Linked DNA regions of Homo sapiens. The protein of the gene in region 1 interacts with the protein of each later gene in a pairwise test. Each region holds a gene or a part of one and is shown on either strand. Other genes may lie near its edges. The genes, in order: FGFR3, MAOB, P3H3, SPRED2, TSPAN2, HS1BP3 and BRPF3.

Evidence for each region.
Region 2: the proteins of FGFR3 (region 1) and MAOB interact in binary tests that used the Homo sapiens proteins (3 or more experiments, as listed by UniProt).
Region 3: the proteins of FGFR3 (region 1) and P3H3 interact in binary tests that used the Homo sapiens proteins (3 or more experiments, as listed by UniProt).
Region 4: the proteins of FGFR3 (region 1) and SPRED2 interact in binary tests that used the Homo sapiens proteins (3 or more experiments, as listed by UniProt).
Region 5: the proteins of FGFR3 (region 1) and TSPAN2 interact in binary tests that used the Homo sapiens proteins (3 or more experiments, as listed by UniProt).
Region 6: the proteins of FGFR3 (region 1) and HS1BP3 interact in binary tests that used the Homo sapiens proteins (3 or more experiments, as listed by UniProt).
Region 7: the proteins of FGFR3 (region 1) and BRPF3 interact in binary tests that used the Homo sapiens proteins (3 or more experiments, as listed by UniProt).

The regions. Positions count from the first base shown.
Region 1 is NC_000004.12:1,803,293-1,806,329, reverse strand, and holds part of FGFR3 (fibroblast growth factor receptor 3 isoform 1 precursor), read right to left. Parts: intron 2,639-3,037; coding exon 2,494-2,638; intron 2,001-2,493; coding exon 1,810-2,000; coding exon of another isoform or gene 1,804-1,809; intron 1,510-1,803; coding exon of another isoform or gene 1,507-1,509; coding exon 1,361-1,506; intron 976-1,360; coding exon 854-975; intron 772-853; coding exon 661-771; intron 581-660; coding exon 390-580; intron 280-389; coding exon 157-279; intron 74-156; coding exon 3-73; intron 1-2.
Region 2 is NC_000023.11:43,767,451-43,770,950, reverse strand, and holds part of MAOB (amine oxidase [flavin-containing] B), read left to right. Parts: intron 1-1,532; coding exon 1,533-1,644; intron 1,645-2,234; coding exon 2,235-2,297; intron 2,298-3,332; coding exon 3,333-3,485; 3' UTR 3,486-3,500.
Region 3 is NC_000012.12:6,827,030-6,831,206, reverse strand, and holds the start of P3H3 (prolyl 3-hydroxylase 3 precursor), read right to left. Parts: upstream 2,801-4,177; 5' UTR 2,767-2,800; coding exon 2,269-2,766; intron 1,349-2,268; coding exon 1,196-1,348; intron 855-1,195; coding exon 653-854; intron 569-652; coding exon 437-568; intron 1-436. Other genes in the region: GPR162 (probable G-protein coupled receptor 162), read right to left, coding at 4,003-4,177. UniProt on the Homo sapiens protein: Part of a complex composed of PLOD1, P3H3 and P3H4 that catalyzes hydroxylation of lysine residues in collagen alpha chains and is required for normal assembly and cross-linkling of collagen fibrils.
Region 4 is NC_000002.12:65,422,600-65,426,099, reverse strand, and holds part of SPRED2 (sprouty-related, EVH1 domain-containing protein 2), read left to right. Parts: intron 1-3,500. UniProt on the Homo sapiens protein: Negatively regulates Ras signaling pathways and downstream activation of MAP kinases. Recruits and translocates NF1 to the cell membrane, thereby enabling NF1-dependent hydrolysis of active GTP-bound Ras to inactive GDP-bound Ras.
Region 5 is NC_000001.11:115,055,004-115,058,503, forward strand, and holds part of TSPAN2 (tetraspanin-2), read right to left. Parts: intron 2,606-3,500; coding exon 2,534-2,605; intron 1-2,533. UniProt on the Homo sapiens protein: May play a role in signalling in oligodendrocytes in the early stages of their terminal differentiation into myelin-forming glia and may also function in stabilizing the mature sheath.
Region 6 is NC_000002.12:20,617,318-20,620,098, reverse strand, and holds the end of HS1BP3 (HCLS1-binding protein 3), read left to right. Parts: intron 1-853; coding exon 854-1,112; 3' UTR 1,113-2,281; downstream 2,282-2,781. UniProt on the Homo sapiens protein: May be a modulator of IL-2 signaling.
Region 7 is NC_000006.12:36,227,744-36,230,516, forward strand, and holds part of BRPF3 (bromodomain and PHD finger-containing protein 3), read left to right. Parts: intron 1-1,158; coding exon 1,159-1,313; intron 1,314-2,115; coding exon of another isoform or gene 2,116-2,116; exon of another isoform or gene 2,117-2,682; coding exon 2,683-2,773. UniProt on the Homo sapiens protein: Scaffold subunit of various histone acetyltransferase (HAT) complexes, such as the MOZ/MORF and HBO1 complexes, which have a histone H3 acetyltransferase activity.

The DNA.
Region 1 (3,037 bases):
ACACGTCACTCTGGTGAGTGTAGACTCGGTCAAACAAGGCCTCAGGCGCCATCCACTTCACGGGCAGCCGGCCCTGGGAGGGTGTGGGAAGGCGGTGTTGGCGCCAGGCGTCCTACTGGCATGACCCCCACCCCCGCACCCCAGGGCCGGGCTCACGTTGGTCGTCTTCTTGTAGTAGTCGAGGTTGTGCACGTCCCGGGCCAGCCCGAAGTCTGCGATCTTCATCACGTTGTCCTCGGTCACCAGCACATTGCGGGCAGCCAGGTCCCTGTGGATGCACTGGGGAAGGGGTGGGAGGCAGGGCTGAAGCCTCTCCACCTCTCCCCGCTGCTCCCAGCATCTCAGGGCAGGGCCCAGCCTACTCCACCCACACCTGCCGCCCTGCCCACCTTCTGGGAGGCCAAGTACTCCATGCCCCGGGCCACCTGGTAGGCACAGGACACCAGGTCCTTGAAGGTGAGCTGCTCCTCGGGCGGCTTGCAGGTGTCGAAGGAGTAGTCCAGGCCCGGGGGCCGCCGCGCCCGCAGAAACTCCCGCAGGTTACCCTTGGCCGCGTACTCCACCAGCACGTACAGGGGCCCTGGGGACACGGGCTCCTCAGACGGGCTGCCAGGCCCAGGAGGGCCGCCCAGCCGGCACCACCGCCGCTACCGCACCTACCGCCCTGCGTGCAGGCGCCCAGCAGGTTGATGATGTTTTTGTGTTTCCCGATCATCTTCATCATCTCCATCTCAGACACCAGGTCCGACAGGTCCTTGTCAGTGGCATCGTCTGTGCACGGAGCGGGGGGCCTGTGTCAGGCGGCGGCGGCGCCCCCAGCCCTGCTCTGCACCCCTGGCCGCCCCCTCCTCACCTTTCAGCATCTTCACGGCTACGGTGACAGGCTTGGCGGCCCGGTCCTTGTCAATGCCGATGGCCTCCGCCATGACCACCTGGCCGAAGCAGCCCTCCCCAAGGGGCTTGCCCAGGGTCAGCCTGGCAGTGGAGGCAGAGGGACCATGAGTGTGCAAACTCGCCCACTCTCAGCCCACCACGGTCCCCACCCCAGCCTGGCCCAGCCCTTGAGGCCCAGAGCCACCACCTCCAGGAAGCCCTCCATGCTCCCCCTACAGCCTGCTCGTAAGGACGAAGAGTGTCACCCACAGCCTCCCGCCCTTGCTGCCCCTCCAGACAGGGCACCTTGAGAGGGGCAGTCCCTGCCATACACCCGTCCCAGGAGCATCTCCACAGAACCCCAGCCACACCCAACATCCGCCACATCCCTGACGGCCCCTAAACCCAGCCGGGCCTCTGACTGGTGGCTGTTTCACCCCCACCACCAAGCCCCCTACAGCCAACGCTGGCCCTCAGCACCACTGACCGGGCCCGAGACAGCTCCCATTTGGGGTCGGCAGGCAGCTCGAGCTCGGAGACATTGGCCAGCGTGGGGCCCTCCCCTGAGGACAGCCTTGCGATGCGCACCAGTGGTGTGTTGGAGCTCATGGACGCGTTGGACTCCAGGGACACCTGCTTGGGTCAGCAGGGGCAGGTTGGCGCCGCGTGGGCGACAGGGCGTGGAGGTACAGCCGGGGGTCAGTGCTGGGCCAGAAGGGGGGGCGTTCTGACTTCCACCAGCATTGAATGAAGATTTTTAGAATGTTTCGTGCCCCAAAGTACCCTAGGCTCTACATGGTGAGCAGAGACGAGGAGAGGGGAGCCCGCCTGGCTGCAGAGAGGGCTCACACAGCCCAGGACCAGCGTGGGCCGAGGTGGGGCTCCAGGAGGCCTGGCGGGCAGGCAGCTCAGAACCTGGTATCTACTTTCTGTTACCTGTCGCTTGAGCGGGAAGCGGGAGATCTTGTGCACGGTGGGGGAGCCCAGGCCTTTCTTGGGGGGGCTGCGCAGGCGGCAGAGCGTCACAGCCGCCACCACCAGGATGAACAGGAAGAAGCCCACCCCGTAGCTGAGGATGCCTGCATACACACTGCCCGCCTCGTCAGCCTCCACCAGCTCCTCCTCGGCTGCAAAGACATGGGCGTTGAGGCCTGGCCTGGCCCCCCCCCCCACGGGGCTCCCATGGATGCCCCTGGCCCAGAGCCGCAGGCACCACTGGGAGCGGAAGGGGGCTCAGAACCTCAGCACGCGCCTTGTCTGGAGGGTCTCGCAGTCAGTAACGCCAGTGAGTCTAGAGGGCCAGACCCTGGAGAGAAGGAGCCCAGCAGAGCCAGCCAGTCCCACACCGCCACCAGGCGCCCGGGAGACACCAGAGCCACAGGAGAGGCCTTTGGGGACCCAGATGGGAAGTGGGCTCGAGGGGGCTGAGGGGGCCCCTCTGGGACCAGGACCGGGCCAGGCCAACTTTGTCCCCACACTGGGCACAGGGCCAGGAGTGAGGGCTCAAGAAGCGGGACGGCCGTAAGTCACAGGATTCCCGTCCGTCCTGGCAGCTTTGGCGTGTCCCGAGCCAGCGTCCCCCAGACAGTGCGGAGCAGCAGCAGCAGCAGAAGCCGGTACCTGGCAGCACCACCAGCCACGCAGAGTGATGAGAAAACCCAATAGAATTGCCCGCCAGGCAGGTGTACTCCCCGGCGTCCTCAAAGGTGACGTTGTGCAAGGAGAGAACCTCTAGCTCCTTGTCGGTGGTGTTAGCGCCCGCCGTCTACAAAGAGAGAGCAGAGCGATAGGCGAGCGCCAGCACCGCCCTGCGGGCACCGCACAGAGTCCACACGGCAGGATCCAGCCGCTGCAAGGAAAACGCCGCCACCACCAACTCCTCAGCCACCGCCAACTTGGTCACCGCCACGCGGCTGAGGGCCCTCCGCCTGGTACACCGGTACTGAGCCCGAAGCCAGGCCCCTCCACCGGCGAGTCCTCTGTCCCAGGTGAGCGGCAGGCGGGCAGGCAGCATGCGGGTTAGCGCAGAGCCGGGCGGGTGCAGGTGGAGGATGGACACAGGGACACACAGGCTGCGGAAGCGAGCAGGCAGCGGGCAGGGGTGGAGAGAGGCGCAAAGGGGTGCTCACAGACGGCACGGAGCCGGCCCGGTGGGCACCGGGCA
Region 2 (3,500 bases), on another chromosome or scaffold:
GACAGGATGAATAATGGCATGTTGACGGTGCTTTCCTTATGGTATTTTTGTCAGAGCAACAATGAACTGCCCCTCTTACAGGCCAAGTGCTATGACATTTCAGTCCCTTGTATAGCATGTGGGCAGTCTACTAACTATTAAATATTATAGGGTGATGATACACCAGGCAAAGAATATAAGATAAAAATAGAGACTTTGACATCTGTTAGACATGGTTCAAATCCTGGCTTTGCTATTTTCTAGGAGTGTGGCTCTTGGCATATCACTGAACATTTCTCCAAGCCTCAGTCTTCTCATATGTAAAAATGAGATAATGATAATAGTAGCTACATCACAGAGTTCTTTAATAGATTGAAGAAATAATGCAGTAGAGAGAGGAAGTATAACTAAGTGGTTAAGACTGTAGGTTCCAGAGTCAGATTGCCTGTGTTCAAATACCAACTCTGCTACTTACTAGCTGTGACCGAGAGCAAATTACTTTGTCTTTGTTGCTGGTTAGGTTCCAGGAAGCAGACCCTGAAACAACGATTAGCAGACAGGATATATATTAAGGCATGCCCTTAGGATTGGCAGCTGTGGAAGGGAGAAGGAAGCAGGAGTGGGCATAGGGAGAACTTGGGCTGCAGTGCAGTTCCAGTGAAGGCCTCAGCTGACCCCAGAGGAAGTTCCAGAACTAGAATGGCCCTTCAGAGTGGGAGGTCTCAAGTTGGAGCTTGGGAATCAGGTATTTACAGCCCGTGGTGATCAGTCACTGGATGCAACTGCTATTGGAAGGAGGCATGACCTAGTAGGTAACATAGTTTTTTTTAGCAGAGGCAATCTCCAAAGAGGGCTGACATCAGTAGGCCCTCTTCTGGCAGCACTCCCAGCAGCTGGGAATAAGTCTTTCATTCTTGAAGGGGGCCTGCGTGGTTCATCACAATGTCCACCACAGTCTACCTCCATATTCTTATCTGCAAAATGGTGATAATAATAGTACCGACCTCACCAGTACAGGCAAGTGTTCAAGGAATAGGAGTTATGGAGCCATAGTCAGACTCTCAGATTTGTTAAATGTTACTGATTGAAAGGGTCTTAGAAATCAGTGGACCATTCCCTTTAAGAGGCAAGGAAGCCAGAGCACAGTGAGAGTAAGTGATTTGCCAAGTTCACTAGTGGAATAGCCAGTGGGGAATTGGGGGCATGTATCACCTTGCCACAGAGCCAGTGAGCCATAAAGGGAGCCATGTGACTGGGCTTACACAGTCCCTCACTTCATGTTGATGAAGCAAATACATAATTTACGTCCATTAATGTCAGCTCCTTCACCTGCAACTCTTGGTGCAGGAGTGAACTTTGGCTTTTATTCTATTTTGTTTGTGACAAGGATCATGTAAGAGCTGGAGGAACCACATAAACATTATTCCAAAATTGCCAATGTCCTTCTTGATTGTTTAGAATCTGTGGAAGCTGACCAGCATTGGTCTTTATGGGAAAACTTTTCTCTGACTCTCTGAGACTGACCACTTTTGCCTCTTTGGTTTTGTTCCAAGGGTTCTACGCCAGCCAGTGGACAGGATTTACTTTGCAGGCACCGAGACTGCCACACACTGGAGCGGCTACATGGAGGGGGCTGTAGAGGCCGGGGAGAGAGCAGCCCGAGAGGTAGGGTCTGGGGTCATAGATTATGGGGAAGGAGGCAACTCATGGTCCTGACATGTAGGTCAAAGATATCTGAGAGCCTGGAGACCAACTCTCCAGTAACCCCCATCTTAAGACCCATAAAATACTATTTTAACTATTGTCTCAGGTGAAGTGAACACCTTAGCCCGAAGTAATAATGAAAATACCTAACATGTCACCCGAAGTAAAAAGAGCCCATGGGGCAAACGATCAACCTGACTATACTTGAAAGGTAACCTAGGTCTGATATTCTAGAACCAAACATGCTTCTATTAGGACTCAAAATTCAATTCATTTCACAGGAAAGATTTTCTGACAGTTCCTCTGATGTCATCCCTATTTGAGGTGTGTTCATAACTATTAAAATTTATGGTAAGCCTAATGATTGGAACCTCTTATACCACAGGAGAAAGACCTTTTGGCGCCTCTTAAAGGTTGTATGGAGTGTTCTGGCCTTTACCTTGGTGTTTTTGATGGATATCTCAAGAGACAGTTACTTAGTCCTTTAGGGAGCAGATTAGAAGAAAGATGGTGTCACTTTTGCTATTTGCCAGTGTGTTCTTTCATTTCAGATCCTGCATGCCATGGGGAAGATTCCAGAGGATGAAATCTGGCAGTCAGAACCAGAGTCTGTGGTAGGCTATGTTTTATTTCATGAAATTAGATATCTTTTCTCTAAACCCATTATTTTCAAGAAGAGCACACTTGTATATATTCACATACCTTTTCCTAAGTGATTCAACTAAGTGATTTAAACATGAATGTTTAAATAAGTATCATGGGTTAGGGTAGAGGTGAGAGATTTAGATGAACTTTGATAAATTTGTAGCTGTCACATTCATTACAGATTATTAGGAAAAAATATTTTTTGATGAGGAGGGAGACATTTCTCGGAGACTTCTAAAAATAATAACTCAATAAATGCCTGTCAAATAAATATCTAGCCTGGTGATTCTCCACATGAGGTAGGAAAAGAAAGGAAAGTGTGTTAGCATCTCCTGTCCAGGGACAAACAAATGGAATGAAATGGAGAATATTTAGATTAAAATTTTATTTTTAATATACTCATCATTTTTGTAATAAAATCCTAGGAAGTTTTCCTGGCTGGAAGGAGGGATGCATAGAGGTTAGAGTGCAAACGCACTTTAGAGGACAAAGTCACAAAGGTCAGAATTATTGCTCTATCCTTTTAAGTGTGAAGTCAAAGAGAATAGGCCTGCCACTCCACAGTCATTCTCTTAGTGCTTCTGCCAGGGATGGGATTGTGGGCTGTAGGGACCATTGATTCATTTACTAACAAGTATTTATGGCACACGTGTTCTGTATCAGCCATTGTGGCAAAGGCACAGCAGCATTTTTGTGGAGCTCAACATCTGGTGGAGAATGCAGATGATAACCAAAAAGTACAGAACAGTGAAGAAGACATGCTGAGAAAAAATGCAAAAGGAGAATGTCATCCTAGGCTGGGGTCTCAGGAAAGAAAGCCTCCCTGAGGAAGTGAAGGGTCCAGTGAGGAAGACAGGGTAAACAGTATAAGCAGAGGGAACATCGTGTTTACTGGTCTAGACGTTGGCAAGAATGGGTCATGTTCAGAGAGCTGGAGAAAGTACAGACTTTCTGGAATAAAGTGCACAAGCCCTGTACTAATACCCAATGTTTTCTGAACCTAGGATGTCCCTGCACAGCCCATCACCACCACCTTTTTGGAGAGACATTTGCCCTCCGTGCCAGGCCTGCTCAGGCTGATTGGATTGACCACCATCTTTTCAGCAACGGCTCTTGGCTTCCTGGCCCACAAAAGGGGGCTACTTGTGAGAGTCTAAAGAGAGAGGGTGTCT
Region 3 (4,177 bases), on another chromosome or scaffold:
GAGCGACAAGGTCAGGGGTTGGGGGATGAATACTTAGAGCACATTGATCCTTGGGGCAGAGGCAGTGCTGGAGAAGGTGGTCTCCAGAGGCCAGACAGCTAACTCCAAGAGCCCCCTTCCCACTGGCAGACAAGTTCAGCTGCCGGTTCTTTCAAACACTGGTGCAAACATACCTTAGCTGGAGAGTTCAAAGAAGAGCAAGAGGGGGGAAAATAAAGGAAGGTGAGAAGCAGCAAGGCAGAAGGAAGCCCATCTCCTGAGCTTGTCACAGGCGCCAAAGGAGGGCAAATTAGAGTCCTTGTGAAGTGATGGTTCCCATGCAGCCCTGACAGTGAAACTACAAATCCAGAGACAGATGGGAGGGATAGAGAGATGGAGCTCAGGATAGCAGCAGAGGCAAATCTTCACTCCCCGTTTCCACCCTTCCCCAACTGACCCTGAGCATGGGCCTCATGTAGCCGCCTCAGCTGGTTGGGAAGGAAGTCTGGGACAGGGAAGCTGCGACCAGGGCGTGTGGCTGTTTCCCCCACACAGCGTTGCCGGCACTGCAGGACCTGAATCCAGTGTCCTGCAGAGGAAACCCATAAGCCATTCAGCTTGTTCATGCCCCTCCCTGGGCACCGACCCACCCCCTCACACACGGGACCCTTACCTGCAATGGCCTCATAGAGGCCCCCCTGGCTCGCAGCCCCATCCTCCTCTTCTTCAGCCCCCTGCTGCTCCTCAGGCCCCTCACAGTCAGCACGGCAGCTCTCCATCTGGGCCAGGCTCCCCTGAAGAGCCTCCTCTAGCCTGGGCAGTGCCAGTCCTGCCTCCTGGCGCCCCAGTAGCTCCAGGCCAGTGTCATAGGCTGCCTGTTGGGGAAGGGAGCAGTCAGTCACCTAAGATCCAGGGGTTGCCAAACTGGGAGGTAGAGAGGAGAGGGGTGTTGGTCTCATTTGGGGCAAGGACTCCATGTCCCTCTTCACCGTGGAGAAGAATAAGGGTGGGCCTCAGAATCATAATGTTAGAACATCAGATTTCAGTGATCATCCAGGAAGGAAACGAAGTCCTAGAGAAGGACTCCCAGCCAGGGTCGCTGAGGATCATTACCCCATCTGTATGCTCAAGCAGCACAACGCACAGTTTAGTGAGGCCTGTGTATCCAGCCAGGAAAAGGCTGGTGGCAAGACAGGGGTGGTGCTGGGATTCTCACCCAGTGTGGGGGCGTCTCCAGGTCCCGGAAGCTCTGGGGCCGAACTCCCGACATTCGTCTGTACTTAGCCATGTCCTCCCGCATCTGCAGGTGCATGGGGTTTGCTACAAAGAAGGTGTGTGCTGCCGCAGCTGCCAGATCCAGCTTCTTCAACTGAGGAGGCGAAGGGAGGAGGGCATCAGAGCCCTGGGACGGGGGGCAGACCTCTGCCCCCTGGCCAGCCTCCCCACCCTACCCCAGACACACACTCTGGGTGCCCCAGAGCCTCATGGAAGACTGGCCAATCAGAACCGCCCACCGCCCGAACTGCAGATCCCCTAGAGGCCAGAACGTTGGGACTCTCAGAAGGCTGGCACCGAGGGAAAGGGGATCTAAAGACGTCGGAGTTGGGTGGGACATGGGTCTCAGGACTTCAGGACCTCAATTTGGGAGACCAGGTGGAAGTGATGGCTTAAGTGAGGTGGGGAAGTGGGGGAGACCTCAGCGACCAGCAAAACCCGCAGGTCTCTAGGACCCTGAGCTGAGGTGAGTACAACCGGCGCCCCGCTTCCCCAGCCACGTAGGCAACTGCTGCGGTACCGGCGGCTGCGGCGTGCTGTCCCCTCCCCGCCCGCAGAGGTCTGGCCTCGGAGGACCCCAACCTTGCCTCCGTCTGCTCCTTCCTTTCCGAAGCTACCTCCTGCCCCAAGCGAAGGTTCACACTCACCACCACCCCCGACACACACACACACCCACGCACACTTCCCGTCCGAGAGCCGGTTTCGCCCCCACCGCCTCCGCTTCATTCCTAGGAAGAGGCGGCCCTGTCCCTCCATCTTCGATCTGCTCCCGTCCCACCTCACGACCTCCCCGCCCCATTCCCATTCTGCTCGCACTCCCCCTCGGCTGCTCCTCTGCGATCTCAAGAGGTCCTCGCGGTCGCTTAGCCAGCTCCTACGCAGAGGCCCGCGGTACGCTCCCCAGCCCCGTGCGGGGCCCGGGCAACAGCATTCCGCCTACTCCTGGGCAACGCAAAGTAGGACAGCGTCGTGGTGAGGGCTGGGACCCTCGGAGCTGCCCGGCCCGCTCCCCACCTGGTAATAGGCCCTCTGCAGGTAGTTGTAGGGCTCCCGACGGCGGAAGGCGTCCCGGAGCGCGCTCCCCACGCGAAGCCGCGCCGCGCCCCCGGGGCCCAGCCTCCGTGCTGCGCACTGGGTCAGGCAGTCTGCGCGGCGGAGCGCTGCACGGAGAAGCTGTCGCTCCCAGGACCCCTGCGTGGGTCCCGGCCCGGAGTCGGGCTCCGGGGCCCCGAGAAGCACGGCGGGGAGCGCGGCGCCCGGATCGGCCGCGCAGCTCGCCCCGCAATCCAGCCGCACCCGGCCCAGCGCCGCCTGGCTCCGCAGCGCCTCCCGCAGCAGCGCCACGGCCGGCGCCCAAGCCCCGGCCGCGTAGGCGCGCAGCCCGTCAGCGTAGAGCAAGTCGGGGGCCTGCGGGGGCGCCCCCGGGGACAGCTGGGTCAGGCCGGGGGGCTCAGGGGACCCCGGGGGAGGCAGCAGCAGCAGTAGCAGCAGCGGCCGGAGGAGCCGGAGCATGATGTCGGAGCCGCCGGCAGCCGAGGGGAAATGCGGGAGCCGAGAGGGAGGGAGAGGAAAGGGGGGAAGGGGAGGGAGGGGGAGGAAGGAGAGATGGAGAGGCGGAGGGAGAGGGAGAAATAATGAGGGAGGCCGAGAGAGAGAGAGAGAGAGAAGATGGGGCTGAGACCCGATGGTGGGAGAGGCCCATGTGAAAAGATGGAGAGAGAAGAGTGCTGAGTGGACAAAGCTGGTCTAGTGTGGAATAAGAGGGAGAAACTGGGAGGAGGAGGGCAAAAGGCGGGAACTGGAGCAGGCCTGGGCATCCATGAAGGATGACTTCAGCCCCAGCGGTGACTTCAGCCCCTGAGGTCTGGGGGTAACTACTGGGGCTGTGTTCCCTCCACACACACGCTTCTGGGTCCAGAAAAAGGAGTGTGGACGCCGATCCCCCCCTCGCCCCCCCCCACCCCCCCACACTCATCCACCCCTGCACTCCCACCCCCCCACACTCATCCACCCCTGCACTCCCACCCCCCCCACACACTCATCCACCCCTGCACTCCCCCACACACACACTCATCCACCCCTGCACTCCCACCCCCGCCCACACACACACTCATCCACCCCTGCACTCCTTTGGAGAAAGAGCTTTAAAATGCAGCAAGGAGGAGGTGTCCAGGCCCGGGACACTGCATCAGCCCCAAAACCTTTCCTGCCCATAAAGTGAGCCCCTGCATGGATTTGAGGTTAGAAGGAGAGTTGGGCACTGGGGCTGGAGCCACGCTCTAAAACCACCTCAACAAATCTGAACAGAGATCCTTCATACCCCAACCAACGAAGATGTGTGTCCTCAAGCCCCGCCCCCAGCAGGATATGCTCCTCCCAGCCTTCCCTGTGCGAGGCTGCCTGGTGGAGCATGTGATCATTTCTCCATGTGTCCTTCTGTGCCTCTGTCTGCTGCCCCTGCTCTGTCGTGTCCCCTGTGAGCCACTCCACCCTCCAAGCCCCTTTCCACCGCAGTACACTGGACACTGAGGTTTCCATGGCAACACTTCAGACTTTAATACATATTGCTAGGGGTGATGGAAGCTGAGTAGGGCATCTGGTCACTTGGATGGGAGAGAGCAGGGCCTTCTGAGCCCCAAATCTAGCGCCCGTCTCCCCAGAGTCTGGAGGCAGCTGCCCTACTCTCGGCCAGAATGAGGTGTTACTCACTCAGGCTTTCTCCTCTGAGTTCAGCAGGCCTGCTTGGGCTCACAGGGTCAGCTGGGGAAAGATGGGGTTGCCTGGGCCCCAGGATCCTCCCCAAGCCCTTGCACTTTCTTCACCCCCCGTCAGGGAGCAGCGTCTCCCTGCGCTTAGTCCCAAAGGAAGTCCAACGGCTCTGCTCTCAGGGGACCCAAGGGAGAGTCGGCGGGGTGAGAGGCCC
Region 4 (3,500 bases), on another chromosome or scaffold:
AGAATCTCTGCAGAAATCACAGTATTAACAATTTTCAATAGCTGCAGGGTTCTGCTGGAGTCTTAACACTTGAGGGTGGATACAGCTGTGCTGATGAACTCCAATATTGGCATCATTCTTGTATTGCCGGCTGAACACAAATACAGTCTAACAGCAAAATTTTCAGAAATTGAACAAGTGATAATAGAGGCAGACCAGAAAGTTTTGGTGTATGTGATTATTTGTTTGGGCTTGTTTTTACTAAGGTAAATTAGGCCGAGTTTTTTAAAAAGACCCCGTCATCTCAATAAACTTGATAACTTATTCTTAGAAATATTTAAAAATTACTATTTAAATCTAGAACATTGTGATGGTGCTTTTAAGGCATTTTCTAGGGCTCTTAGTGACTTTGAAGTAGAAGAAATATTTTGTATTGATGCTCCAGTGCCCCGTGGAACAAAATATATTTTTTATATGCTTTCCCTGGATAGACATGAAGGATTGTTACATCTTGACATATGTCCCATGTCATGGAAAGAAAGTCAGGCCAGGATCATGGGAGTTTGCTAAATTAAGTAACAATTGTTTCATAACTACCCATTTCCCTTTCTCATGTAACCTTTATCAACATTATGTTCACATGTGGCATATTGCACACGTATTATCAAATTGTGCTTATGTTCTTCCTGCTACTCTCAAAGGGTAGTTGAATATTTATTTAAAAACAAACTTTCTGTGTTTACTTGCACTTAGAGGGTAAAGGTAAAGAAACAGATTTTGACTTCACCCTTAGCATTTAACACTTGTGATTGAAGAGATTAGAACAAATATTGGGAGCTTCTAAAATGTATGGTTTTGGCTCCTCTGTGTCCTGAAATAACGATTTTTCAGATCTGGTTGTTTTTATTCTTTGATATATTTCCTGTGGTCCATTTATAAATGCTTAAAACTTAATTATCAGTTAAGTTTTTAATTGACTTTCATTTGTTCATCTGGTAATGACATCTTTGTCTTTTCATTTTCATTATTTATTCCTCTTGTTTCTTTTTCTTACTGCTTTGCTTTGGCTCTGGCCTCCAGTACTGACTTTTCAGATACGCACTGTTTATTTTGTATTTGCATCCATACTAACTGAGAATGCACAGAGAAGCTTGGCCCATCTGTCTTTCTAGGTGTGGGAATAGGTTTGTTTGTTTGTTTGTTTGTTTTTGAAACAGACTCTTGATCTGTTGTCCAGGCTGGAGTATTCCAAGTGATCCTTCTGCCTTGGCCTCCTGAGTAGCTGGGATTGTAGGTGTGCGCCACCACACCTGGCTAATTTTTAAATTTTTAGTAGAGGTGAGGTCTTCTTAACGTTGCCCAGGATGGCCTTCAGCTCCTAGCCTTAAGCAGTCCTCCTGTCTCGACCTTCCAGAGTGCTGGGATTATAGGCATGAGCCACCTGCACCTGGCATGGGAATAGCTTTATCTTTTATTTTTATTACTTTTTTTTTAGAGATGGGGTCTTGCTCTGTTGCCCAGGCTGGAGTGCAGGGGTGCAATCATGGCTTACTGGAGCCTTGAACTCCTGGGCTCAAGCAGTGCTCCCATCTCAGCCTCCCAAGTAGCTGCGACCACAGGTGTACACCACCATGCCCTTTGAGAATAATTTATTAACCCTCATACCCATGGCCTGGCAGAACACTGAGCACATAGTAGGCTTTCTGTAAACAGTTATCAATTGGTTGAAGTAACTATTCATTAATTGAAAAAATAATTGTACCGTGTATAAAAATTTAACAATTTTTCACAATTTAACAATTATCTTTTTTGGATACCTATATCCAAAAAAGACTTTGAGTTGCTTTTTCAAAACTACTAAAGGAGAGGCTGCCATGATGGTAGTGGAAGAATCATGGACTTTGGAGTGAGACCGTACCTCTTCCCCTGCCACTAAGGGACCCTGCTAAGTATCCCAAGCCACCAGCCCTGGATTAATGTAAATGAGGTTCATTCTGCTGTATACCTAATAGGCTGTTAAAAAGTAGAAATGGACCAGGCATGGTGGTTCATGCCTGTAATCCCATCACTTTGGGAGTCCGAGGTGGGCCGACCACCTGAGGTCAGGAGTTCGAGACCAGCCCAACCAAGATGGAGAAACCCCATCTCTACTAAATATACAAAATTAGTTGAGCATGCTAGCACATGCCTGTAATCCCAGCTACTCGGGAGGCTGGGGCAGGAGAATCGCTTGAACCTGGGAGGCGGAGGTTATGCCAAGCAGAGATCGTGCTAAGCAGAGATTGCACCATTGCACTCCAGCCTGGTCAACAAGAGCAGAACTCCATCTCAAAGAAAAAAAAAAAAAAGCATAAATGAGGTAGCCTTGGTAAAACATTTTAGCACAGCACCTGAGAAATTGAGATTCAGTAGCATCCATCTACCCCAGGTCTGTCCCCCATCATGTAATAAGGTGTTCTTTCTTTTCAGAATTTACAAGGCAGAGGAGATCCATGAACTTTACAAGGCAGGAAACAAGATTTTCACTTTGTACCTTAGAGAGCTGAAATGACTTGCTCAAGGCTCCTCAGGGAGCTTGTGGGAGGATAATTAGGATTTAGAAGTCATGTTCTAAGACTGACTGTTTCTTTTGGCTTTCTAATGGTGTCCTGGTAGTTTTTGTACTGTGATAATCAATAATGCCCAGCTGACCATTGGCCCCTTTACTCAGTGATCCCAGTTGGCTGTGCTTTTTGAGATTCTGAGTTTTATAGCTTGTCTGTTCTCTTAGGGTAAGAGTACCTACCTGTAATAGCATCCTTGGCTCCCCTGCCATCCCTACGCCATTCCTGATATGTGGTCTAGATACCTTATTACCAGCAGCATTCAAATTCTCTCTAAAACAAAAGTCAGTAGGCTTGGTGTGGATGGGTGGGACTGACCATCCTCTTAGGAGTCACTTGGCTTATGACATGTTTTGTCTACTTGAATGCCATGTTTGGCATTTCATTTTATTTTTCCAGCCAAGGAATAAAGTGGACGATGGAGTGGGAATACAGACATAGTGCTAGACTAGAGGTTTAATTTATCAACATCCCAGTAATTTTACTCATTTTTATAGATCTTTTAAAGCAGCGTAAGTGTGACTATAGTCTTAATATAGTTATTACATTTCTCCCTTTTGCTTAAAGGTTAAGTCAAGTTTGATTTTTTTCTCAGGCTCAGACTCGCAAAGCAAATCTGCCTTGCTAGAATGATGTGCCTGGGCTCAACAGCTCACCTCTGGCCCTGAAGGCCTAATAATTGGTTGCCTTCTCATTGATCTGTGTGTGAGCACACTTCAGAACAGTACTCTGCTGTTTGTTAAAATAAAAAACAACAACAAAAAACCTTTGAAGACCTTACCGTCCATTCTAAGATGTCTTTTGTACTAAGGAAAATTGGGGATACTAGATTATAGGTGTTGATTTGGAGTGTGATATACTGTGAATCGGAATAACTTGAATTTAGAATGTACTTAGGCCCCAGTTGCAAAATTATGT
Region 5 (3,500 bases), on another chromosome or scaffold:
AAATAATAATAAAAGACAGTTAACTTCATATCCTGCTTTGGGTCTTTCAGCTCCTCAGGAAGCCTGCACTGCCAGTTACTTTTTTTCCTTCCTATACATTCAGCCTCTCCTTATCCATTGACATTTCTACTTATCCTATCACCATGCTCAGTTCTTCAATCAAAACAAACAAAACAACACTCGAGACTGTCCTCCTCTAGTTCTGCCATTAGGCCCTCCTTCCCTTCATTGCCAGCTTCTTTTTGTAAAAAACAAATGTACAAAAGGTATATTGGCTTTAGTCACAAAAGGAATACATGCTTCTTGTAGAAATCTGGAAAAGAGATTTTTTTTTTTTTAAAAAGAAATGTCTGTATTCTCACCATAAAAGGTAATAAATTTGTTGGTGATACTTACACACACAAACACACCTACACCCTTAGGTCATTCTTTATATTCAACAGTGAGCTTTTTAAACTTAATATTACAACTTTAAAAATGCCTTGTTTCACTAAAAATTTCTTTGAAATCATGATTATGATGATTATTTTTTTTTTTGGAGACAGAGTCTCGCTCTCTCACCCAGGCTGTAGTGCAGTGGCGCGATCTCGGCTCACTGCAACCTCTGCCTCCCAGGTTCAAGTGATTCTCCTGCCTCAGCTTTCTGAGTAGCTGGGATCACAGGCACATGCCACCACGCCTGGCTAATTTTTGTATTTTTAGTAGACGGGATTTCACCATGTTGCCCAGGGTGGTCTTAAACTCCTGAGCTCAGGCAATCTGCCTGCCTCTGCCTCCCTAAGTGCTAGGATTACAGGTGAAATCATGATTCTTAATGGTGGTAAAACATTTCATCATATGAATATACTACAATTTATCCAAACAATCCCCTATTGCCACATATTAAGGGTCTGTCCAGTGTTTTGTTCTTATGAATAACATGTAATGAGCATGATTTGCACAAAAACGTCTGTCTGCATTTCTGATTCCTTTTCCTTAGAATAAACTCCGAGAAGTGGAATTTCTGGATAGAAGGGCATAAACATACTTAATCCTCTAGTCTTACATAGTCATACTGACCTTTAAAACTATTTACTAATTTCTCTGAAAATGCTCACGACATCACGTTTACCAAAACTGTGTATTATTGTTAAGGGAAAGGAAAAACACTTGGTCAATTTCATAGATTAAACAACAGCATCTCTTCATTTTAATTTGCTATTGATTTTAAATATTACTTTTAATTTTCTATATTTTCTATATGTTTAATGGTAATTTGGACTTTGACTTTTGTAAACTTTCTTTCTGTGTCCTTGGCTCAAATCGAAACTTCTTGAAAGGATGCTCTCTCTCCTCACATCTCGCTCTCTGAAACCTGGGCTCTGTCCTCAATCCATCCCTCACAGCACGTCACCAGTTGGTTCCTTGCATGCTAAATCCTGCCAGCTTTTCAGCAGTTATTAGTAGACCTTCTTAGGCTTTCAGTTCCCCACACAAACCATGTCATTTCTGCCTCTGTGTTGTTGCTTACGCTGGTCTCTCGGCACGCAGGCCTCCCCCTCCCGCTTTCTGCCCAATGCTTGCATAATTACTTTCCATTCTTGAAGATTTAGCTGAGACATCATTACCTCTGTCAGCCTTCCCCATCCCCCAGCCTCTCGCCTCTCCTAAGTGCGTTTCCCTCTGTGCTTTCCGAGCACGTTGCACATTCCATGCATTCCTAATCACTGGACCGTATGGACTTCATGTTCATCCCTCCTATCAGACTGCAATGCAAGCTCCTTGTGAGTAGGAACTTTTTCTCCTTCTCCTTTGCATCCACAGTGCCGAACATAAGGTAGGCAGCTGATCAATACTGAATTGCCCTCAACAGCAGCACCTGGGCCTGGTGACCATTCCCTCCCCTTCCCGTGCTGTCTCCTCACTTGTGTCTGGCCGCCCCTCCCAGTTTCCTTCTTTGGCATCTCTTCTTTTGCCCACCCTTAAATTGTCCCCCAAGGATCTATCCTCATCCTTCTTTTCTTCCAAGTCTAATGGATCAAATCCGTATTTATAGCTTTAAGTTTCCCATCAAGTGCTGACACTCAGACCTCTCTCCTGAGCCACAAACCAGATTTTCCAACTGCCTACTGGATATTTCCATTTGGAAGTGCCACTGGCTCCTCAAAATCACCATGTTAAACACAAAGCTCATTTTCTTTTCTCCACAATTGGCTCCTTTTCCTCTCTCCCTCAGCTCCATAAATGACACCATCATCTATGTAGGTGGTGAAGCCAAAAACCCAGTAATGGATTCTCCTCTCTTCTCTGGTCACCACTCCTGTAGTTGTCACTTTCTAAAGGGCCCTCTTTAACATCTCTTGCTAACAACAAGGACAGCAGCCTTCCCAATGGGTCTCTCAGCTCAACGCTATTCATTTTCCATCAATCCTCTATGCTGCCACTAGAGCAAATTCAGTAAAATGCAGATCCCATCCGAGATTCTACCTTCAATGGCTTCCTAAGCTAGCAGCATGATACTACAGGTAGAGTAAGAACCTTGGTAGAAGCTTACCTTGTGTCCTAGAAGCTCCTTTGGGCATGTAGGTTGGACCTGTTCGGAGCTTTCTTTTCCACAGCACTGAAACTAGAGAGTCAGAAAAGAGACTTCAGGACCAGGCGGGAGGAGTAGCAGCTACAAGTCTGGGCACCCTGCTAAGGACTGGGGTGCCGAGGCGGCAAAGCAGCTCCGAGGCCCAGTCACTGCAACCCAGACTGCTATTTCTGGAAGGAGAGTGAAGAATCACATAATCATGCTGGCAAAACAAGAAAATGACTTCGCTAAAGCCATCTGAGTTTATGATGGGAAGTGACTCAAGGCAACCCAAACAAGGCAAGAAGCTAATTGACAGTGTCTGTGTAAATTGCTACTTTTTAGAAAGGGGTTGGGGCTTTAGATTCCTTCTTTCAGACTGGGAGTCATTTAACCTGCTGAGGAGCTCAAGTTTTATGAGCTGCAGAAGGACTCATTAGCTGGGAATAGTCTGGGGAAGAGGGGAGAAGTGGCTGCAGGAAATTCCAGGGTCCAAAAGACCAGATTTGAAGATTGGCCAGCAAACAGGTGTCCTGCTTAGGCTAGCTGGCCCTTTAAGACAAAAGAACCTGTGTGCTGCTTCAGGTCCTGGCGGCAGCTGAGGTGAAACCGTATAAATGTATAAATGGTGGCCACTTTCCAAGACATACTTGTCCTAGACAAGAACTAGGTACCTGAAAACACCTGGCCCAGGAATTCACAGCTACTTCTTCATATCACAGTGTCTAAAAAATCAGAATAACTCTGGCCTGGCCCATCTCCTCTGTAAGCCTTCTGTGATTAACTGCATGTAGCTCTGAGCACTCCACGGACAGCACAGTCCCACTGAATGTTCCAGAAGGGAGTGTAGCCATCTCCTGTGACCCTTCATTCTACAAATGAGGGAGCTGCGTGGGTATCAGGGAGGCCAAGTAACTTGCTCAAGGTCACAAGGCTGTTGAATGGTAGA
Region 6 (2,781 bases), on another chromosome or scaffold:
AATCAAGTTCTGGAGAATCAGTGGCCTGGCCTGTTTCTTGCCCTCAGTACCCAGGGATGGTCCTGAGTGACCGTAACACTGCCAGGGCTTTTTGCCCACCCACCAGTGGGAGATTAGAGGTCTGGGGTCATGACAGAGTCTTGGTGGGCCCTGGCCGAGGCCATCCTCAGCTCTCACTGGGTTCCGTCTGGCACCCGTGTGGCCCACAGCGGGGCACTGTGGGCGGGCCAAGCCTGTACCACCATGGCTCAGCGCCCCTGGTTATTCTTTCTCTGGCTGAACTTGCTTTGGATGAGGGCTCAGCTTCTAAGGGCCGATGTCCTGTTCCTTCCAACAAAGGCACTGTCACATACCATCCCCTCGAGGTCACTCGGCCTCCTGGGACTCCAGCGTCCTCATCTGCGTGATGGAAGCACAGTCATGCCTCCCCAGAGTGGCGTTTTGAGGATAAGATATGATAACGTGTCTGAAGTGCTGTACAGAGCGGGAACTCTGTACATAGTAGCTGGTGGTTATTTCTGAAGGGATTGGAGGGAAAGCCCCCTACAGAAGGCAGCGTGTGTCAAGTGGGGTCACCTGAAGAGCAACTCTCAGGAGGCTGCGTGGGGCCTGCCCTGTGCCTGCTTTGCTGTGGGTGGGAGGGAAGGAGAGCCCTGGCCTTCGTGTCTCCTCTGGGCAGGATGGGTGGAGGGGCCAGAGTGGAATGGGGCAGAGCAGGGCGGGGCCTTGACCTGGCCGAGGCTGGGCTCCCTGCCGCTGCCCAGCCCCGTGTGGGCACTGGCATTGCCTGGGGTCTTGTTCCTGTCACGGGGTGGCAGTGTTATGCTCAGGGTTCCTCCCTGTGGTTCCCTAGAGTTGAAGAGGACTTGGACCAGATTCTGAACCTGGGAGCTGAGCCCAAACCCAAGCCCCAGCTTAAGCCCAAGCCACCAGTGGCAGCTAAGCCGGTGATACCCAGAAAACCAGCTGTTCCCCCCAAAGCGGGCCCGGCTGAAGCTGTGGCTGGGCAGCAGAAGCCGCAGGAGCAGATCCAAGCCATGGACGAGATGGACATCTTGCAGTACATCCAGGACCACGATACACCAGCCCAGGCCGCCCCCAGCCTCTTCTGACCCTTCCATGCTGGCCCCTGGCCCAGCAGGCCTGTCTGTGGGGACATCGGTGTGAAGGGAAGGGACTGGGCCCTGCAGGGTCAGAACCTCCCCACCCCCAGGGGAGGCCAGGCAGAAGCCTGGGTCACAGCACCCAGAACTGCATGGTTCCATTTTCTCCGGGGCTGTGGGGCCAAAGTAGAAGCCTGCGGGCTGCGGGAGCGGCTCTCACCCTAGGAGCCAGAGCCCAATGTGTCTTATTCCCCGTGGACATGAAGGGGAGGGAGGGTGTGGGGATGCCTTGCCAACCAGAAGCCCAGCCCCAAGGATGAAGCAAGACATGTGGGGCCGTAGCGAGGTGTCACATGGGGCAGGGAAGCTTCATGCCCACGGGTTCTGCCAGCCCCAGCACAGACCCAAACTGGGGCTGGGCCTCTATCCCTCCTCTGCCTCTGTTCGCATAGTAAGAAGGAGTGACCGGTATCCTCCCCTTCCCCTACCCTAAGCTGTAGCCTGGGTGACTGACTGGCCTGGGCCTGGGGTGGGGACGTCCCCAAGCCAAATTACTCCAGGGCCTCTGCTCCTCGTGGCTGCCAGGGGCCTGCAGGGTCTGGGTGGGTCTCCCAGGAGAGGAATACTGAGTGGGAGATCGGCTGTCTGGAGTGTTCTGATGCAAGTCTCTCTCTCCTGAGCCTCCTCTTGATGCAAGCTCTAAAGGGAGAAGTCAGGCCCTGCCTCTCCAGGGTATAGACGGCCCTGCTAGGCCCCAGTTCTTCCTCCTTCCCCCTTTCCCAGGAAAGGCCAGCCCAGTCCATGGCCTTCTTGGGCCTCTGGGCACAGAGCCAATGTTCGTCATTGCAGCTCTCAGCAAACTGGGTCATAGCTTTCCCCACAGCTCAGCCTGGGGCCTGGGCAGGGCTCCCAGCCTGCACCGCCTCCCACTGCCAGTGGGGCATGATTCTCTCAGGCTTCTGCCCCGAGGCCTTCGTCGTCCTCAGGGTCTGGACTTGGTCAGTGGCCTTTCACCAGTGGAGCTGCCTTCCCAGGGAGAAGGAGCCGTGCGCCAGGGCAGGGCCCGTGCCTTAGACTTCTCCCGACCCCCAGAGCGCTGGTACACAGGTCTAGGCACCACACAGTGCTTTGGAAATTCTCAGTGAATGATGTTTAATAAAGCAAAAAATGTCAAGGTGTCTTTCTTGGATATAATTCTTCATGTTCAGAGCTAGTTTTTTGTTTTGTTTTGTTTTGTTTTTTAATGAAACAGTAGTTTTAAAGGAAATGCAACCACTATTGCTCCTTGGCCCTGTCCTGCCTGGCAGAAGCATTGAGCGGGTGGGACTAGGACCTCAGACCCTTTTCTGATAGACACCAAAGCCAGCCCTGAGGGAGCCCCCGGCTGATGGTGCGGGTGGTTTGCAGCCATCAGTGTTGAGTGTCTCAGCTCCTGGCCCGTGCCAGGACCTGTCTGCTCTGTCCTGCATCTGATCACGTCCCTCTCCAGCTGTGGCGCCCTGTCCTGAGCAGCTTCCCCTCCACCAGTGCTAGAGTGAGAGGAAACAGGTGGTTTTGGGGTCGAGAGCTGACTCCCTCCTCCTCCGTCTTAACCCAGGCTCAGAGGGTCAGCTCCCTCCCCAGGGCTCTGAGCCAGCTCTGGGACAGCTCCAGCACCGGCTCCACCCATTTGCCTTCC
Region 7 (2,773 bases), on another chromosome or scaffold:
GCTGGGAGAGAGAGTTTTGATCAAATTACACACCTGGTGGGTGGGGTAAGGTGGTTCTTCCTTAGAGTAAACTCCTAACCAGAACAGCTGCTTTCAGCTGCTTATCTTGAGAGGGATGTAGTGAAATTGGCAGACAAGCAAAGGTAAATAATGAGAGCAGTTTATTGTAAGAAGGGGCCCACTGGGACAGCGTATAGGAAGTAAGATTGCTCTGTCTCTGGAGAAGGCTGCTTCCTCAGTAAGTTCCTAGTCTTTGCTCCCAGAGCTATTAGCTGTCTGCTCTGGAAGCAGGGGCTGTGTAGGAGGCAGTGGGCTGTGGAGGCCCAAGCCTTGTTTGGTTTTAGTACCAATGTGGTTTTAGCCAGCTACATTCTGCTTCTGTGCTTGGTGTTTTCCTCTTGTCAGCTAACACCTGTTAGCAGACTTCTCAGCATCAGCAAGAGATTGAAATGAGATGATGTGTGAATAATTAGGAGCTTTGGAAACTTTGAAAGTGCTCCCTAGACCTGGATTTTGATTGTTGTGTTGATGCTGCCAGGCATTTTGCTGAGCACCTGCCGTCTCTGAGCCAGGCAAGGTGGGGCTGGATGCCAGAAGCAAACCTGAAGGAGAAGGGCCCAGCTGCTGCCCTTGTGGAGCTTATTGCCTCAAGGATTAATGCCTCCAGTGGCCCTTGTTTCCACCCACATCATACCCCCCTCTCCATCAACCTCCAAGCTCATTCTCTAGCTATACACTGAGCCTCCTCTCTGATCTTACCATGGAGGTGTCACAAATATATCTGGTCCATGTATCAGGAAGGATTGTAGTCAGACAGGAAGGTAGTGGGTAACCAGAGACCTCGTTAGAACCAACTGGATGGCCTTCCCGATGCAAAGCCTTCTTCATAGCCGTGGTACCTAGGGAAGGCCCCCAAACATTTGAGGTGAATTGCAAAGGTACTAAGGGGAAATTGACAGGAAAAAAAAAGTGACCTCTACTCTTCTGTCCTAAGGGACATTGGAGGAAGGGGTTTGCCTGTCTGGTCTGGACATCAAAGATATCCCACTCAGGCCTGATACTCCCCTGGTGTGGGTGCTTCAGCAGTTGGTCCTGCAGCAGGGGCACTGCTCACCCTGGCCTCCCTCACTGAGTGCCCATCTTCTATTCTGCCTCCAGATCATCGATCCCAAGATGCCCCGGGAGGGCCTCCTGCACAATGGCGTTCCCATCCCTGTCCCCCCGCTGGACGTGCTGAAGCTGGGAGAGCAGAAACAGGCAGAGGCTGGAGAGAAGCTCTTCCTTGTCCTCTTCTTTGACAACAAGCGCACCTGGTTAGTGGGTGCTGCTGTGAGGGGGCTGAGGGGCACGCCAGGGGTCTGTGCCAGTGGTGCTGTGCTAGTGAGGTGTACAGAGGGGCCATGGATGTTACCAGTTACCCTGGTCTCCACTTGCCAGCAACAGGCCTGCACTTGGCATGTTAATAGTAACTGAGGGGTGTTGCAGATCAGATTCCCTGGGAAACACTCTGAGGTCGAGACTTGCATCAGGAGGCTATTGAGGAGAGCTGTGGGGCGGGAGCGATGCAGCACTGGGCAGAAGTTGAACTACAGCCCACTTGCTGCCTCAGCTCATCCACTGGGCACATCTGGAGCTGGGTGGCTCAACAAGATAAGAGATGTCAGGAATTGGGCCTGTGCCTTTTTGCCCTGTGCCAACTAGTTATTCAATGCCACTGCCCTGAGGGAGGGGTGTGGCCTGGGCCTGAGGCTTCCATGGTGGAGAGTGATTCCTAGAGAGGGACTCAGATGAGAGCCTGTGAGCTTCCAGCACTTCCAGTAGCTTCTGGGAAGCATGTTTCCGTCCTGAGGGGGGTTCTGGCCAGTGCAGTGTCCGCTACAGGAGACTTGCTCATTTATGGTTTACAACACTTAAGGTTTCTCTTAGCACCAACAAGAGAGTGCTTTCACCTTAGCTTCTATAGAGTGAGGAGGGAGAACTAGCTAATAAAAACAGTGATAATAGTAGCTGCCATTGAGTGCTTACTCCATGTCCTTATGCAGATTGCTTTATATATCTGATCTCTTTTAATCCTCATTTAAGTCTTCATTAATCCCCTCATAATCCATTTTGCAGATGAGGAAGTTGAGGCTCAGAAAGTCCAGACCCTGTAGCCAGAACTAAGATACAAAACAAGATCTTGCTCCAAAGGCTGTATCCTTAGCCACATGTTATATTCACCCGGGGAGCTTTAAAAACACATACACAGTGTGCAGGTCCCACCACAGATGAGTTTATCAGTTCCTGGCATCAGCTCTACTTCCTAGCCATCGCCCCCTAATTCTCCAACGCAAGGCGAGGCTCAGAGCCCTCCAGGGTGGCTCAGCTGGCCCCAGAGGGCAGCAGGTGGGCCTTTCTTAGCCTATGGACCCTTACAACTCTCCAAACAGAGTAAGGGCCCAGAGAAGGACCTAGCTGCAAAATTGATTCCATGCCATTCCCCCACCCGACTCCTGCATATCCTGCTTGCTGTCCTCACCTGCTAGGTTCTTGGTGGCCTCCTGCATGGAGTCCCCCAATTTGCTTCCCTCTGCCCTGTACCCTCTCCCTGGCTTTGCTGGTCCTGGCCAAGTGGGGCCACAGGAGCCCGAGCCCCCTGTGAGACCCACTACTGCCCAGCCTCTTACTGTGCTTGCATTTCAGGCAGTGGCTTCCAAGGGACAAAGTCCTGCCCTTGGGTGTGGAAGACACCGTGGACAAGCTCAAGATGCTGGAAGGCCGCAAGACCAGCATC